Regions from separate parts of the Homo sapiens genome. Here region 1 is linked to region 2. A link means that fine-mapping ties the variant in region 2 to the expression of a gene that starts in the linked region. Tissue or cell type: sun-exposed skin. Region 2 holds a variant in brackets; the other region holds the start of a gene. All regions are shown on one strand. Distances are from middle to middle.

Evidence for each region. PIP is the estimated chance that this variant, and not a neighbour inherited with it, causes the effect.
Region 1: GRIN2A starts here. The variant in region 2 is fine-mapped to the expression of GRIN2A in sun-exposed skin (GTEx, PIP above 0.99).

What each region holds. Positions count from the first base shown.
Region 1 is chr16:10,180,427-10,186,735 of GRCh38, reverse strand. GRIN2A (glutamate ionotropic receptor NMDA type subunit 2A) reads left to right here and starts at 4,308. Exons shown (of 13, transcript NM_001134407.3): 1 at 4,308-4,859; 2 at 6,307-6,309. RefSeq lists silencers at 5,041-5,100, 5,111-5,220.
Region 2 is chr16:10,249,890-10,258,013 of GRCh38, reverse strand. LOC105371078 (a long non-coding RNA gene) reads left to right here and starts at 5,371. Exons shown (of 3, transcript XR_001752077.1): 1 at 5,371-5,700. The variant A/G (reference allele first, on the strand shown) is at 4,245.

The DNA.
Region 1 (6,309 bases), 70 kb after region 2:
CGATGTTCCAGGGCAGGAAGCATTCAGCCCCAGGGGAAAGATGGAGGCCAGAAAACTGAACCAGTCTAGTCTTTCCATATTCTGCCTGCTTTTATTCTGGCTGTGCTGGCAGCTGATTAGACGGTGCCTACCCAGATTGAGGGTGGGTCTGCCAGTCCACTGACTCGAATGTTAATCTCCTTTGGCAACGCCCTCACAGACACACCCAGGAACAATACTTTGCATCCTTCAATCCAATCAAGTTGATACTCAGTATTAACCATCACAGTTGATATAGCTGCTATGAAGAAGTTTTTCTTATCATCTGAAACTCTTTGAGCAGCAAAATTCTGCTTAGCATCCTAAGCTGCATTGAGAATTAAGCTTGGCAGCATAGATGGAGTAAGGCTGTCATGATCTTATACACGCTGTCACAGTCTCTGCATGTATGGTGAAGTTCCAGGTGCCTGACACACGATGTGCTCCACCCTGGTGACATGTCCACCCCAGTGCAACTCCAGCCTCCTGTGCCTATGTTTAGAGGCACAGTGTCCCTTCCAATGAAGGGCTGCCTTCTTTCTCTATTCAAAAGAGGCCGTATCAGTTTGATTTATCTTTCTATAAGTCTGATCATGAATAACTTAAAACCCTGAATACCAGTATTTTTCAAGAAAGACAAATCCAATTTCAGGGTCAGCATCAATTTATGAGAATAGCAAGTGCAGAGGCATCATCAGAATCCCCTATGGATCTAAAATAACTGTCCGTGCTTGGCCCCACACCTGGAGATCCTGATGGAGTAGATCTAGAGTGGGCATAGGCATCTGTGTTTTATTTTCTTTATTTATTTTTTTTGGGACAAAGTCTCACTCTGTCACTCAGGCTGGAGTGCAGCAGTGTGAACACTTGGGTTGTCATCATGTTGCCCCGGCTGGTTTCAAATTCCTGGGCTCTCATCATGTTGCCCAGGCTGGTTTCAAACTCCTGGGCTCAAGTGATCCTCCTGCCTTAGCCTCCCAAAGTTCTGGGAGTACAGGCGTGAGCCACTGCACCCAGCCACATCTGTATTTTAAAAAGTCCCATAGATAAAACCCACATATCCATTGCAGGAGACTGGATACACAAAGTGTGGCTTATCCATGCAATAGAGAGCTAGCTGCTCAACAATAAAAAATAAAAAAGCTGTTGATACATGCAACAACACAGAGGAATCTTCTAGACATCAGGGTAAGTGAAAAAAGCCAGTCACCAAAGAATACATAGTGTAAAATTCCACTTATATGAAGTTCAGAAAAGGGCAAAACTAATACATGGTATTAGAAATCAAAATTGTAGTTTACACTGAATGGGGGGAGTGGGATTGACAACAAAGGGACACAAGAAAACTTCCTGGTGGTGATGAAAATACTCTGTACCTCATTTTACGTGACGGTCTATGTGGATACACACAATCTCAAAAGTAACAAACTGGCTGGGTGCAGTGGCTCACACCTGTAATTTCAGCCTTTGGGAGGCCAAGGCCAGAGGATTTCGTAAAGACAAGAGTTTGAGACCAGCATGGACAACATAGCAACACCCAATGGCTACAAAAAATAAAAAATTTGCCAGATGTGGTGGCATGTGCTAACCACCACAAGTCCTAACTACTTGGGAAGCTGAGGCAGAAGGATCACTTGAGCCTAGGAGTTCAAGTTAATAGTGAGCTACGACCACACCACTGCACTCCAGCCAGGGCAAGAGTGAGACCCTGTCAAAAAAACAAAACAAAACAAAACAAACAAACAAAAAAATAAAAAAACACCAAAAAACCTTCACAAATGAAACCCTTGAGAGATATGCATTTTATTGTCTATAATTTATAACTCATTTAAATAAAATGGCCTAACTTCCCCTTTAGACCCCAAGCCAGAGTCTTGCATGGGTGCCAAGGAGTGGCCTAATCAGTTCAGCCCAGCCATAGACTCAAGAAAGGAAACATTTTCCTGTTCCCTGCCTTATATTATACAATCCCCCATTTTAATTTACTTTCCAGCATTTCCCTCACGCTTTCTCTGTCTTTTGGATTAAAAAAAAAACAAAAACAAAAACCCAGGAAACCCAGCATAGAACAACCAGCTCAATAATGAATCCATTTGTCTCCACACACTGTGCCCCTCTCCTGTCTCCATTTCAGCAGCCACATCCACATTCTTGGAAGAAGTTCCCCTGCTTCCAGGCTACTTCAAGGTGCATGATGTTGATTGAGCATCTACTATGTGCCAGACCTTGTTGACCCCTTTATTAAGGCTACTTCCTTTTCTTTTCAAAATAATCCTGAGAAGTAGATGTTTTTACTGCCCCCCATTTCCAGATTAGTGATCAATAAAGGGAAGTAATATAATGTCCAAAAGTGATATTTTAGTTTGATCCAGGTGCCATAGCAAAACATCATCAACAGCAGAAGTTTATTTCTCTCACTTCTTGAGGCTGGGAGGTCCAAGATGAAGCAGCAGCAGACTCAGTATTTGGGGAGGGCCTAGTTCCTGTTCATAGGCCGATGCCTTCTTGATTAAGTCTCACTTGGTGGAAGGACCTAGCTGACTCTCTGGCATCTCTTTTATAAGACCACAAATCCCATTTTACTCTCATGAAGCCATGAAGTCACCTCCTAAAGTCCCCACCTCCTAATACCATCACCTTGGGAGTTAGGATTTTATCCTATGAATTTGGGGGTGGGAACACACACATTTAGACCGCAGCAGGTGACATTAGGTTAAGTGGAGGAGGCAGGGTTGGAACAGTCATTGCAAAACCTCTTAGAATTTAAGACCCCTTTCCTTCCAAGGCCTGAAAGGCAGACAGGCGTTGGAGATACAGGTGAATATAAAAGGGGCAGAGCTCCTCCCTTGACCATGTATTTCATGCCCAGTCGCTAGAATTCAAGTCAACCAAGCCCTCACACACCCGGGCCGTCCCATGTTCTCTGGCTCACCTCTTCTGGTAGCTTAGAAGTGGCAGCCTCAGGGAGGCTTCTGTTTGGTAGAACTTAGAAGGAAGCATGTGGGAAATGCAGATGTCTTTGCTTTTAGGATTCTGGCTCCCTGAGATCAGAGGAGTGGGTTCCCGTACGGGGGTGGCGAGGCACAGGGAGAAGCATTGGAGCAGACTCTGTGTGTGTGTGTGTGTGTGTGTGTGTGTGTGTGTGTGTGTCGGCGCGCCTGTGCGTGGAGGGGGATAACTGTACCCAGCGCGAGGCACTGGGGGAGGAGGAAGCGGTAGCAGAGATCTGAATAATTGATTCTTCAGCCGCACCAGACGCCCGGGAGCGGGCGGAGAGCGTGGTTCCAACACCACGGACAGCAGCGCGCGCCGCCGCAGGCGCCCCCGTCGCCAGCCAGCCACCTATCCTGGCCTTATTTGCCGCCGTGCGCTCTCGGAACGGGTGGCCGCGCTCCGCGTCGCCGCCGAGGGACTGCGGGGTCTGTCTCGACCCACCTAGGAGAGAGGCTGCGGGCAGGAGACGCTTTCGCCCGCCGGAGCTCGAAGCCTCTTGGGCTTGAGCGGGGGCTACTGCGTCTCGCCGGCTGAGAACAAGTCCCTAAGTTGGTGTGGAGGGCGCCGCTACCTTCCTTCTCCTCTTCCTCGGAGGCGACCGCAGCAGAAAGACGCCCCGGGAACCCGGCTTTGCCAGTGCTGTGAACCAGGGTGTCCAGGCGCTCACCGGACTCCCGCTGGGAAGTGGGGAGCCGAACGCCCGGCGCGGAGCTGGCCCAGCAGCGAAGGGCCCGGAGGGAGCTGCCTTTCCCCGCCCGCGCCTCTCTCGGCCGGGGACCGCGGGGATCCCCGGCCACACGCGAGCGCGCTCCCACACTCACACACACACTCGCCCTCAAACACACCAGCCCGGAGCTGGGTTGCGGAGAGGGTGCTCCGGCGCGCTCAGAGGACCGGGCAGTTGCCGTCCGGAGTGGGGCAGGAAGCGGAGCTAGGGATCTTGGAGGGGAGCTCCTAGGGCTTGGCCGGATCATGGGACCGGGTGAGCGCTGAGAATCGCGGCCGCAGCCATCAGCCCTGGAGATGACCAGGAGCGGCCACTGCTGAGAACTATGTGGAGAGAGGCTGCGGTGAGTGCTAGCGCGGGACGCCGGGCCTGGGAGGCCCCCTTGGGAAGGGGGGAGGTGGGAGGCCTGAAGAGGGAGGAAGCGGCAGGATCACAAGAGGGTCGCTGCGTGGGAAAGATCCACCTCCCTCGGGGAACCGGGACCGCGGGAGCCCGCGTCCTTCCCTCCCCCTCTCCTACTGCTGGCTCGTCACAAACTCAGCCAGCGCCCCCCCACCCTCGTTACCTCCTCTTTCTCTCCCTACCTCCCTCGCTCAGCAGCTCCCGGTCGCACAACTCCCAGCAGCCGGCGCTGGGGAGGTGGTAGGGGGTGCGGGTGGAGGTGCCCAGTTAGCTTCTCGTGGGTGGCCAACCTGGGGCTCCCATTCTCCTGTGCACCCTGGAGTGGAGCTCCCGCTATCAGCCACAGGGGCTGAGGATCCGCACTGGGGGCGTCGTGGGCATCGGGCTTCAGCTTCCCCCCTCTTGTCTAGCCCCCCTGGGCGCATAGGGGGGCTTGTGAGCACTGCAGACTGCAGCCTTCCCCTCAACCCTCCCTCCCCTCGTTGGTGGGCTGACCCTGCCTCTCCTTCTCTCCTCCGCCCCGTTAGAGCCCTGCTGCAGAGCCTCCGGCTGGGATAGCCGCCCCCCGTGGGGGCGATGCGGACAGCGCGGGACAGCCAGGGGAGCGCGCTGGGGCCGCAGCATGCGGGAACCCGCTAAACCCGGTGGCTGCTGAGGCGGCCGAGATGCTCGTGCGCGCAGCGCGCCCCACTGCATCCTCGACCTTCTCGGGCTACAGGTACGTCCCAGAGGGAGATCAGGGCTCCTTGGGCCGGGGAGGAGGGAGACTCGACCGGAGGGAGAGCGGGAGAGGGATCAGGCTAGAGAGGGAGAGGGAAAGCGGGAGGGAGCCCAGCGGCGAAGTGCAGGAGGGGCACCAGGGGGCGCTGCGGCTCCGCGCTCCGCGGCGCTTACCCAGGAACGTCGAGGCCTCTTGGAGTTCGCCTCAACTTCCCCCGGCTCCAGCAGCGTCCGTCCCGAGAGGCGCGCGTCAGGGCACGCGTGCACGACCGTGCTGGTATTTGCAGGTACGCAGGGCTGTGCACCTGCCGCAGTTCATGCGTGTGCACCACCTGAGGACATGTGAGGACTCCGGCTGGCCGTGGGCACCGCTACAGCAGTCTGAGGAAGTGCGCAGAAAAGCGCGCGTGCCTATGAGCGTGTGCGGCCCACTGCCCACGTGCACCTAGGACTTGGCAACAGCGCCCGCAGTAGAAAGGCTAGGGAGGGGCTGTACAGTCCACGTCCGTCTGGGAGCTTCTTGGGAGCCTACCTTTCCCCCTACGCACGTTCTTTGCCAGCTCCTACGCGCTGGCCCGCGGGGGGACGCGCCTACTCTCCAGAATTCAGCATTGCACACGGCGCGCGTGAGAGAGGGTGTGTGTGTGTGAACATGTGTGTGTGCGTGTGTGTGTGCACGTGTGTGTGCACGCGCGCGTGTAGGGGTGAAGGACTCTCCACGGCCCCTTGGCTCGAGGTGGGGCGAGCCCCAAGTTCCCCAGGCACAGCGGAGCCTGGGCCCACCAGGCAGCGTCCTCACTCCCAAGCACTTGGGGTGTACTCTGACTGAGAGGAGCCGGGTCTGTAGTTGGGGCTGGGCGTAGAGCAAAGTGTGTGGTGCACACGACGGGCTCGTAGGGGGCGGGGTCAGCCAACTAGCTGAGCTCTCAAGCTGGGACGCGGGGTCTGGGTGCCGCCTCCGCACGCCCTGCGGGGTCTGTAGTTCGCTCCGCGCCAGCAGGGGGCGGGGTTGATAACTTGGTCCTCTCTATCCCAGGTGGGAGGGGTTGGATGGAGGGTTTATTCTGTGCACCTAGGAGCTTGGTGGGGTACAGAACACGCGCGGCGCTTAGGGTCTGTGGCCCGCGGCGAACTTGGGGAATGCGGTGGGGGATATGGACAGAGATGGGGATGGGGAAGTGCCTGGAGACAGGGGATGAGGAAGCTGGATGCGAGAAGGGGCTGGGGGATGGAGAATTAGCTCGAATTGGAGTTGTGGATAGAGTTAGAGATGGATCGAGGGATGTGGATGGCGTCGGGGACTCGGAATGGAGTCCGTGATCCCAGCAGCCTATCCTGCTGCTGAGTTCCATGCCTGGCTCCTAGAGCAGGAAGCCAAGTTGGTAATCCCTTTCTTCTGGTCGCCTTGCTCACCGCGGCCCTGCCTCTCACTCTTCACCTTGCAGGGA
Region 2 (8,124 bases):
ATTACAGGCATGAGCCACCGGGCCCAGCCTTGTATTTATTTTTATTATTTATTAATTTATTATTTCTATTTTTAGAGACAAGGGCTTCCTCTGTTGCCCGGGCTAGAGTGCAGTGAATGATCATAGCTCACTGTAACCTTGAGCTCCTGGCTCAGGCGATCCTCCCGCCTCAGTCTCCTGTGTAGCTGGGATTACAGGTGCACCACCACACTTGGCTAATTTTTTTTGTTGTTGTTTTCTGTAGAGATAGGGTCTTGCTATGTAGCTCAGGCTGGTCTAAAACTCCTGGGCTCACACAGTCCTCCTGCCTCAGCCTCCCAAAGGGCTGGGATTACAGGCGTGCATCACTGTGCCTGGCTGGATCACTGTGTTTCATTCTTACACTGATGCTGATGTCAATACTTTTTAAAAATCCCTTCTTGATACATGAGAAAATGGAGGCATAGAGGAGTGACGTAGTCTGCCCAAGATCACCTACTTGGGAAGTGGCAGAGCCCAGATTTGGATCCTGCTAGAGCCTGCAGAACCCCTTTAACCCAATGGTTTGCCACTGAGGGTGATTTTGCTCCCACGGGTCAGCTGGCAATGTCAGGAGACATTTTTGCTTGTCACTAGTTGAGATGGAGGTGCATTGGCATCTTGTGAGTAGAAACCAAGGACGCTGCTAAACACCCTAACATGCACAGAACAACCTCCCACAACACAGAATTACCAGCCCCAAATGTCAACAGTTCCAAGGTTGAGAAACCCTGCTTCAGCTAATCATTACACGGGTTTTAGTTCTATGAGTACCCCACAATTCATTAGGGAGACAGGACAAAGGCATACATGAATTCTAGTACAAGGAAGAGGCATGCTACAGAAAGGGTATAAATCATCCTTATGGCCCTCATTAGACCTTTTAATTTCCTTATAAGCCCTTTATTGCCACGGCTAATCCTTGCTAACCCTGCTCAGGGCTGTTTTCAGCAGAGGAAAGTTACCGAGCCCGTCCCCGCCCCCCGCCCCGCTTGACGTCTGGCGCCTCCTGGTGGCCTCAGGAGAAACTCCATCTTCCTCAGATACCCCACAAAGTCCTTCCCCTTCACCTGCCCCAACTCCAACCTCAGCCGCATCTCCCTGGGGCCCCTCGGCATCCTGATATAGTCACTGCCTCCCGTTGGTGGTCACCTACTGGCCGCAGCCCGGGACCTCTCACAGGAGCTGCCCTCTCTGCCTGTGAGTTTCTCCATTCTTTTTTTTTTTTCCCAGCTTTTGCACTGGGTACACTTTTTTTTTTTAAACTCTCCACTATGTTAATGAGGACCATTTTTCTTCTGCTTTGCAAACCCTGCTCACCCCTTCAGACGATGCTTAAAGACCCTCTCCTCCTGGACATCTTTCTGATTCTCCCAGAAAAAGTGAATGGCAGGGTCTTTTGTGCTTTCAGGCCTGGGATTTATGGTTAGGTTATAACTTACTAATTTATGTCTCTTTGTTCGTCCATCTGTGTGTCTGTCCCTCCACCTGTGGCTTCTAAGCCTGACTACAAAATGTCCTGGAGGGATTGCTAAAAACAAAGAAAGAAACAAGCAAGCAAACGATCTCCATCACTACAGGCATTTGCGTATATTTTTACATTCCCAGGGGGTTCTGAAGTACCCTAACATCTGAAAACAGCTCTGTATTGTTGCTCTTCCTTGTTCAGATCTGGCTGAAATGTCACCTCCTAAAAGAAGTGTTCCCTGACCTTTTGTAGTATTAATGACAAGGTTGGAAGAGGTGGCTCGAGGATTTATCACTGGAGGCTTTGAATGCCAGGTTAGGCAAGACAACGGGACATGGCTCTGTGGGCTTCTTAGGGTTTTTACCAGAGGGAGGGAGGTGATTCCTGGTGAGTGTTGGCAGTGTTAGTCCAGCAGGTTGGTGCAAGATGGGTGCAGGAGAGGTGAGGGCTAGATGTGGGGAGTTCCTACTAAGAGTTCTTGTAGCAACTTGGGAATGAGGAAACCGGGGCTTGGGCTGGCTTGAAGGCTGTGAGCATGGAGCTTCGGGGAGAGGAGAGAAGGGGACAATGTCAACACGTCTTAGACAGGTCCAGGCACTGATTAGCTATGGGGATGGCTGTGATGAATGAGTCAGACATGGCACTCAGAGTTCTAGCCTTGGCACCAGAAGGCTGGTGCTACTGCCAGAGGTAGAAAAGGCAGGGGAGAGCTCCTCTCCTGAGGGTAGATGATGGATCAACACTGGGACCCACTGAGTTTGAGATCCTAAGAGGATCATCTAAGAGTGGACTGAGAGGAAGGTCAAAAGAGGGGAAACTAGAGAGGAATCCCTGGAAACACACGATGCCTCATTTCCTGAGTTCAAGAAATAGCTCTTCCGGCATCTCCTACGTGCAGGCCCCCACGCCAAGTGTGCGGGTGAAGTGATGGATTAAACGGGTGTGATTCTTGCCCTCATGGAACTTCCCCTGTAGTGAGGGAGAGAGAGGAAAGAAATGTACCAAATATTTTCCAAAATTAATAATGGCTGGGCGCAGTGGCTCACACCTGTAATCCCAGCACTTTGGAAGGCGGAGGTGGGAGGATTACTTGAGGCCAGGAGTTTGAGACCAGCCTGGGCAACATAGACCTCGCTAACAATAAAAAATATTGGCCGGGCGTGGTGGCTCATGCCTGTAATCCTAGCACTTTGGGAGGGTGAGGCAGGCGGATTGCCTGAGCTCAGGAGTTCAAGACCAACCTGGGCAACATGGTGAAACCCCACCTCTACTAAAATACAAAAAATTAGCCGGGCTTGGCGGCGTGCGCCTGTAGTCCCAGCTACTTGGGAGGCTGAGGCAGGAGAATTGCTTGAACCCGGGAGGCGGAGGTTGCAGTGAGCTGAGATTGCATTGCTGTACTCTAGCCTGGGTGACAGAGCGAGACTCCGTCTCAAAAAAAAAAAAAAAAAAAAAGCCAGGCATGGTGGTCTGTGTCTGCAGGCTAAGGTGGGAGGATTGCTTGAATCCAGGAGGCAGAGGTTGCAGTGAGCCGAGATTGTGCCACTGCACTCCAGCCTGGGTAAGCGAGACTCTGTGTCAAAAATAAATAAATAAAATAAAATGTTAGCCAGGTGTGGTGTCATGCACCTGTAGTCATGAGTCTCCTGAGGTGGGAAAATCCCTTGAGCCCAGGGGTTCGAGGCTGCAGTGAGCCATGATTGTGCCACTGCACTCGAGCCTGGGTGACATAGCGAGATCCTATTTCTTTTTTGAGACAGAGTCTCAGTCTGTCACCTAGGCTGCAGTGCAGTGGCACGATCTTGGCTCACTGCAACCTCTGCCTCCTGGGTTTGAGAGATTCTCCTGCCCTAGCCTTCCGAGTAGCTGGGATCACAGGCACCTGCCATCATGCCTGGCTAATTTTTGTATTTTTAGTACAGATGGGGTTTCACCATGTTGGCCAGTCTGGTCTCAAACTCCTGACTTCAAGTGATCCTCCTACTTTGACCTCCCAAAGTGCTGGGATTACAGGAGTGAGCTGGGATTACAGGAGTGAGCCACCACACCTGGCAAGACCCTGTCTTAAAACAATAATAATAATAATAATAATAATAATTGCTCTGAAAGAAACCAAGATAAAGAAAAAAAATGTATCTTAAGTTCCGTTCCCTAGAGGCAGTCTGAGATGGCAACTGTTGTGCCAGTGATTTTTTGAGGGGCTGCTCTCAGTGAAAGGAAAGTCAGAGAAGCCAGGTAGTTAATCCTTTAGAGAAGGTTTCAGGTATGAGCCCTAAGTAGCTGATACCTACAGCAGTTGGGGGTGGGTCCACTGGCCTGGTGACAAGGATCTGAGTGGGACATTGACAGTATCTCCTCCCTTGTGGTAAGGGAAGGCCTGAGGAGGTGGCATTGAAGCTGAGACCTGAAGGATGGGAAGGAGAGAAAACCTGAGGCACGTGGTTGATGGACAGAAGGCAGTGCTCTGCATTCCAAGTGGAGGGGGTGGCACCGCACTAGTCCTGATGTGGAAGCAAGCTTGATGTATTCGATATTAAATTTTAAATGAAATTATTTAGGTATTAGACATTACATTTTAAAGGAAATTATTTAATTTAGGTATTAGACATTAAATTTTAAATGAAATTATTTAATTTAGTACATTAAATAATTTACTCTTTATATTTTAATTATTTAAAATGAAATTTAATATTAAAGAAAGCCAGGGTGGCTGGGATTTCTGAACCAAGGGAAGCGTAACCCAACATGAGATCAGAGC[A/G]TCGCCAGGGACTTGTAAACATCGTGCAGAGCCTGGATTTTATGCTAAGGGCAACGAGAAACCTTTGAAGAGGTTTTAGGCGAGCAGCTGCCGAGATCTAATTTATGTTTCAAGATCATTCTGGCTGCTGTGCAGAAAATAGAGTAGGGTGAGGCAGTCATGCAAACCACAGTGCTAAACACTTCACAGGCATTCACGCAAATCCCACGGTGATCCTCGTTTTCCAAGGGGTAACTGAGACCCAGCGAGGGTAAGCTATCTGCCCAAAGACACACAGCTAACAAGGCAGCAGAACTAGGATTAAAAAAAAAAAAAATTCATTTTTAGAGACAGGATCTCACTCTGTCACCCAGGCTGAAGTGCAGTGGTGGGACCATAGCTCACTGCAGCCTTGAATTCCTGGGCTCAAACCATCCTTCCACCTCAGCCTCCTGAGAAGCCAGGACTACAGGCGAGGCCACCATGCCGTGCTAATTTCATTTACATTTTTTCATAGACACAGGGGTCTCGCTATGTTCCCAGGCTCGTATCAAACTCCTGGGCTCAAGTGATCCTCCTGCCTCAGCCTCCCAAGTAGTTAGGACCACGGCTGTCACCATGCCCGGCTAATTTCATTTTAATGTTTTGTAGAGATGGGGTCTCGCAGAGATAGTTAGGGTTAGGGTTAGGTTAGGGTTAGGGTCTCGCAGCAAGACCCATCTCAACGAAAAATTTAAATGAAATTAGCAGGGCCAATTGGCCTCCTGGATTGCTTAAGCCCAGGATTTTTTGTATTTAAAAGAAATTTAATTTAATGAAATTTAAAGGCAAACAATTTAAAGGTTGGTGTCGAACTCTTGGGCTCAAGCAATCCTGCCTCAACTTCCTAAAGTGCTGAGATTATAGGCTGAGCCACTGCACCTGGCCAGGAGCTGGGAACGGATTGCAGGCCACCGAAGCTGCAGTCTGAGCCCCCACTGTAGGAGCTCACCGCCTCCTTCAGGGTCCGCCTGCTCCCCTTCAAGGCCAGCAACGTTCTGCACAGGGCAAGAGCTCCATAAATGCTCTTTGGGCGGAAAGGTGTGGGAGTGAGAGAATCTGGACAGGAAGGGCCCACAATGGAGTGGGGAAGGCACCGAGGGGAGCAGGCAGGGTCCGAGGAGGAGGGAGTTAGCGGAGGGAGTGCTGGTGGGGTGGTGGTCATGAAAATCAGACGTTCCCAAGCGACACACCCGGACCAGACCGTAGAGAAGATGCTGGACTTGGTGCGTGGGAATCATCAGCGACCCCGGCTAGGGCAGCTTCGGGCAGCGTAGGGAGGAAGCCAGATTGCAACGGATTAAGGAGTGAGGGGGTGGCGAGATTTGCTGTCCTGATTCAGCCGCCGCGGCGGCAGCCCGGGCTGGCTCTCCTCCCACAGGTGCGGGCTCCACATGCGACGGGAACACGTGTGCCCACTCGTGCCACAGGCATGCAGGTGGGTGGAGGGGGCGGCTGGGGAGGACTGAGGCCCGGGAGTGCGGACAGCCGGGGTGCACAGCCTGAAACGGAGAGCAGAGGGCTGTGGGCTGCCGCGGGACCACGCGCACAAGACCCCACGCGTGGGCTCCGCCTGGGGGGAGTGAAACAGAGCGGAAGGGGTTTGCTTGGGTGCTGGGATGCTTCTCTGTGGAGGTGGCAGAGAGAAGGAGGGAGTGAAATGAGAGAGAAAATGGTGAGCTGGGCAAAGAGGCCAGCCCCGTGTGGTTTTTGGAAAGGACATAGTAGGCCTGGCATGGTGGTGCACGCCTGTGATCCCAGTGCTTTGGGAGGCGTAAGCGGGAGGATCGCTTGAGCTCTGGAGTTCGAGGCCAGCCTGGGCAACATTGTGAGACCTTGTCTCTACTAAAAATTAAAAAAAAAAAAAAAAATGAAAAGCTTGCAGTAGAAGTAGTAATGAACAACAGCTGCCATTTATTGAGGGCCTGCTCTGTGCCCAGCGCTGTGCAAAGTAGGCTTAATCGTCCTGAGACTCTCACTCTGATGAAGAACATGTTAATGGTATCATCATCATGTTGTGGATGAGGACACCGAGCCTCAGGTTAAGTGACTTGCCCAAGGAGTGCTAGAATGGAACTTGGGCTGGACAGACCCAAAGCTCCTGCCCCTAACCCCTTTTTGGTGCTTCTGTCTACACCTTCCTGGAAGGGGGTGACACGTGGGGTTTTGAGTTAGTCAGACCTGTGTACCAGCCACTGCCCTGTGACTTTGGGTCATTTCCACCCCAGAGGGTTCAGTTTCCTTTTTTGCAAAGCAGGGATACGGAGAAACTTTGGGAAGGCTGAGGTGAGAAGCATCTAGATAAGGGCAATTCATTCGTTCATCCGTTCATTTGTTCGTTTAGCCACAGGTGTATTGAGCACCTGCTGTGTGCCTGATGCTATGCTATGGGAATCGATAGTCATGAGCTAGATGGGGTCTGTGATTTCATGGAGCTTAAATCCAGGGGAGAGATATGGATAATAAATGAGTAAATAAATTTACTAGGTAATTCTGGATCATAGTAGATGTTACAAAGGAGAAAATGCAGTGTAATGAGAGAGAGCGAGCATGATGGCTGAGGGCCTCTGCAAACTTATCCGCACAGCAAATGGCAGTAGCCAGTATGATGCTCCAATTTCTGCTCCAAACAGAAGGTTCCAGAAACCTTAGCCAAAAGATGCCTGGAATCACTGGGGAACCCAATCAAAAGGTGGATACCTGCGTATTTGGAATAAGACTCCCTGCCTTTCTGTTGGTTGTGTTATCCTTGGTGTGAAGAAACAGAGGCTCAAAGAGGTTAAGCAACCTGCCTGAAGTCACAGAGCTAATAAATGACGGGACCGGGATTTGAACCTGAACAACTGGATTCAGGAACCTGTACACTTCATCAGTAGGCTGCTGGAGAGTGCAGACACTTTTTGTTAAAATGCAAACACCAACCCTGGGAAGAGTAACACACAGGCTCTTTGTTGCTGTTACATGGAATTTCCGTGTATGAGGGCCCTTAGAGATCATTTAGAGGAGCGAAGATCAGAGAGGTGATGTCCCTGCCCAAGGGCACACAGCCAGGCAGCCACAGAGCTGGGTTAGGAGCCTGAGGACAGATGTCTCTAGAGGGTATGGCACTGTCTGTCTCCAGCCCGAAGCTCGTTTCAGGTGGTGCTTGTCAGCTGATCACCCTGGCTCCATCAGCCATGCTGGCACTGCACAGCAGCCGGTCTTTATGGGCACGGACATTTTAATGTCCTTTATTCAGGCAAAACTCATTCCAGAATTTGAGTAACTTTGCATCTGGGGACATGTTTCACCGAGCCCCGAGTGGCTGAGTTGGCTCATGCTGGGTGACAATGACTCACTTTTATTGCCCCGTTGCTTTTGAGCCTGTGCCCGCCACAGATAACCTTGCAGGAGGCTGCAGCTGCCCTGGAGGTAGCAGCTCTCCAATGCTCCCCCTCGCCTAGTTAGCAGCGAAGGTGCTGTGCAGGCTTCCCCTCCTGCCCTTCTCAGCTTCCCCCCTACCCACCTCTCTCTTCTGGTTTCTGCAATCTATCCCCTTGGGGAAGGAAACCTGCCACCATTTGGGCCCAGGATGAGTAATTGGTACTTAGAAGGAAAATAAAGATGCCAAACAGGTCTACACGTTTGTCTGAGTGGCTCTGGTGTTCTTTCAGACCCTGATTCCACATGGCCCGGAGCACCCTGACTTGCTTTCTCAAGCCCCATTTTCCACATTCCTTCCTGGGTTGGAGATGGCCGGGACCGAGAGAGACAAAGCGGACCCCTTAGCATTGAGGCACGAGATGATGAAGCTAAGCCGACAGAAGAAAAGCTGACCCCACAGAAGGTGATGATGTAGCCCAGATATTTAAAGGCAGCTTTG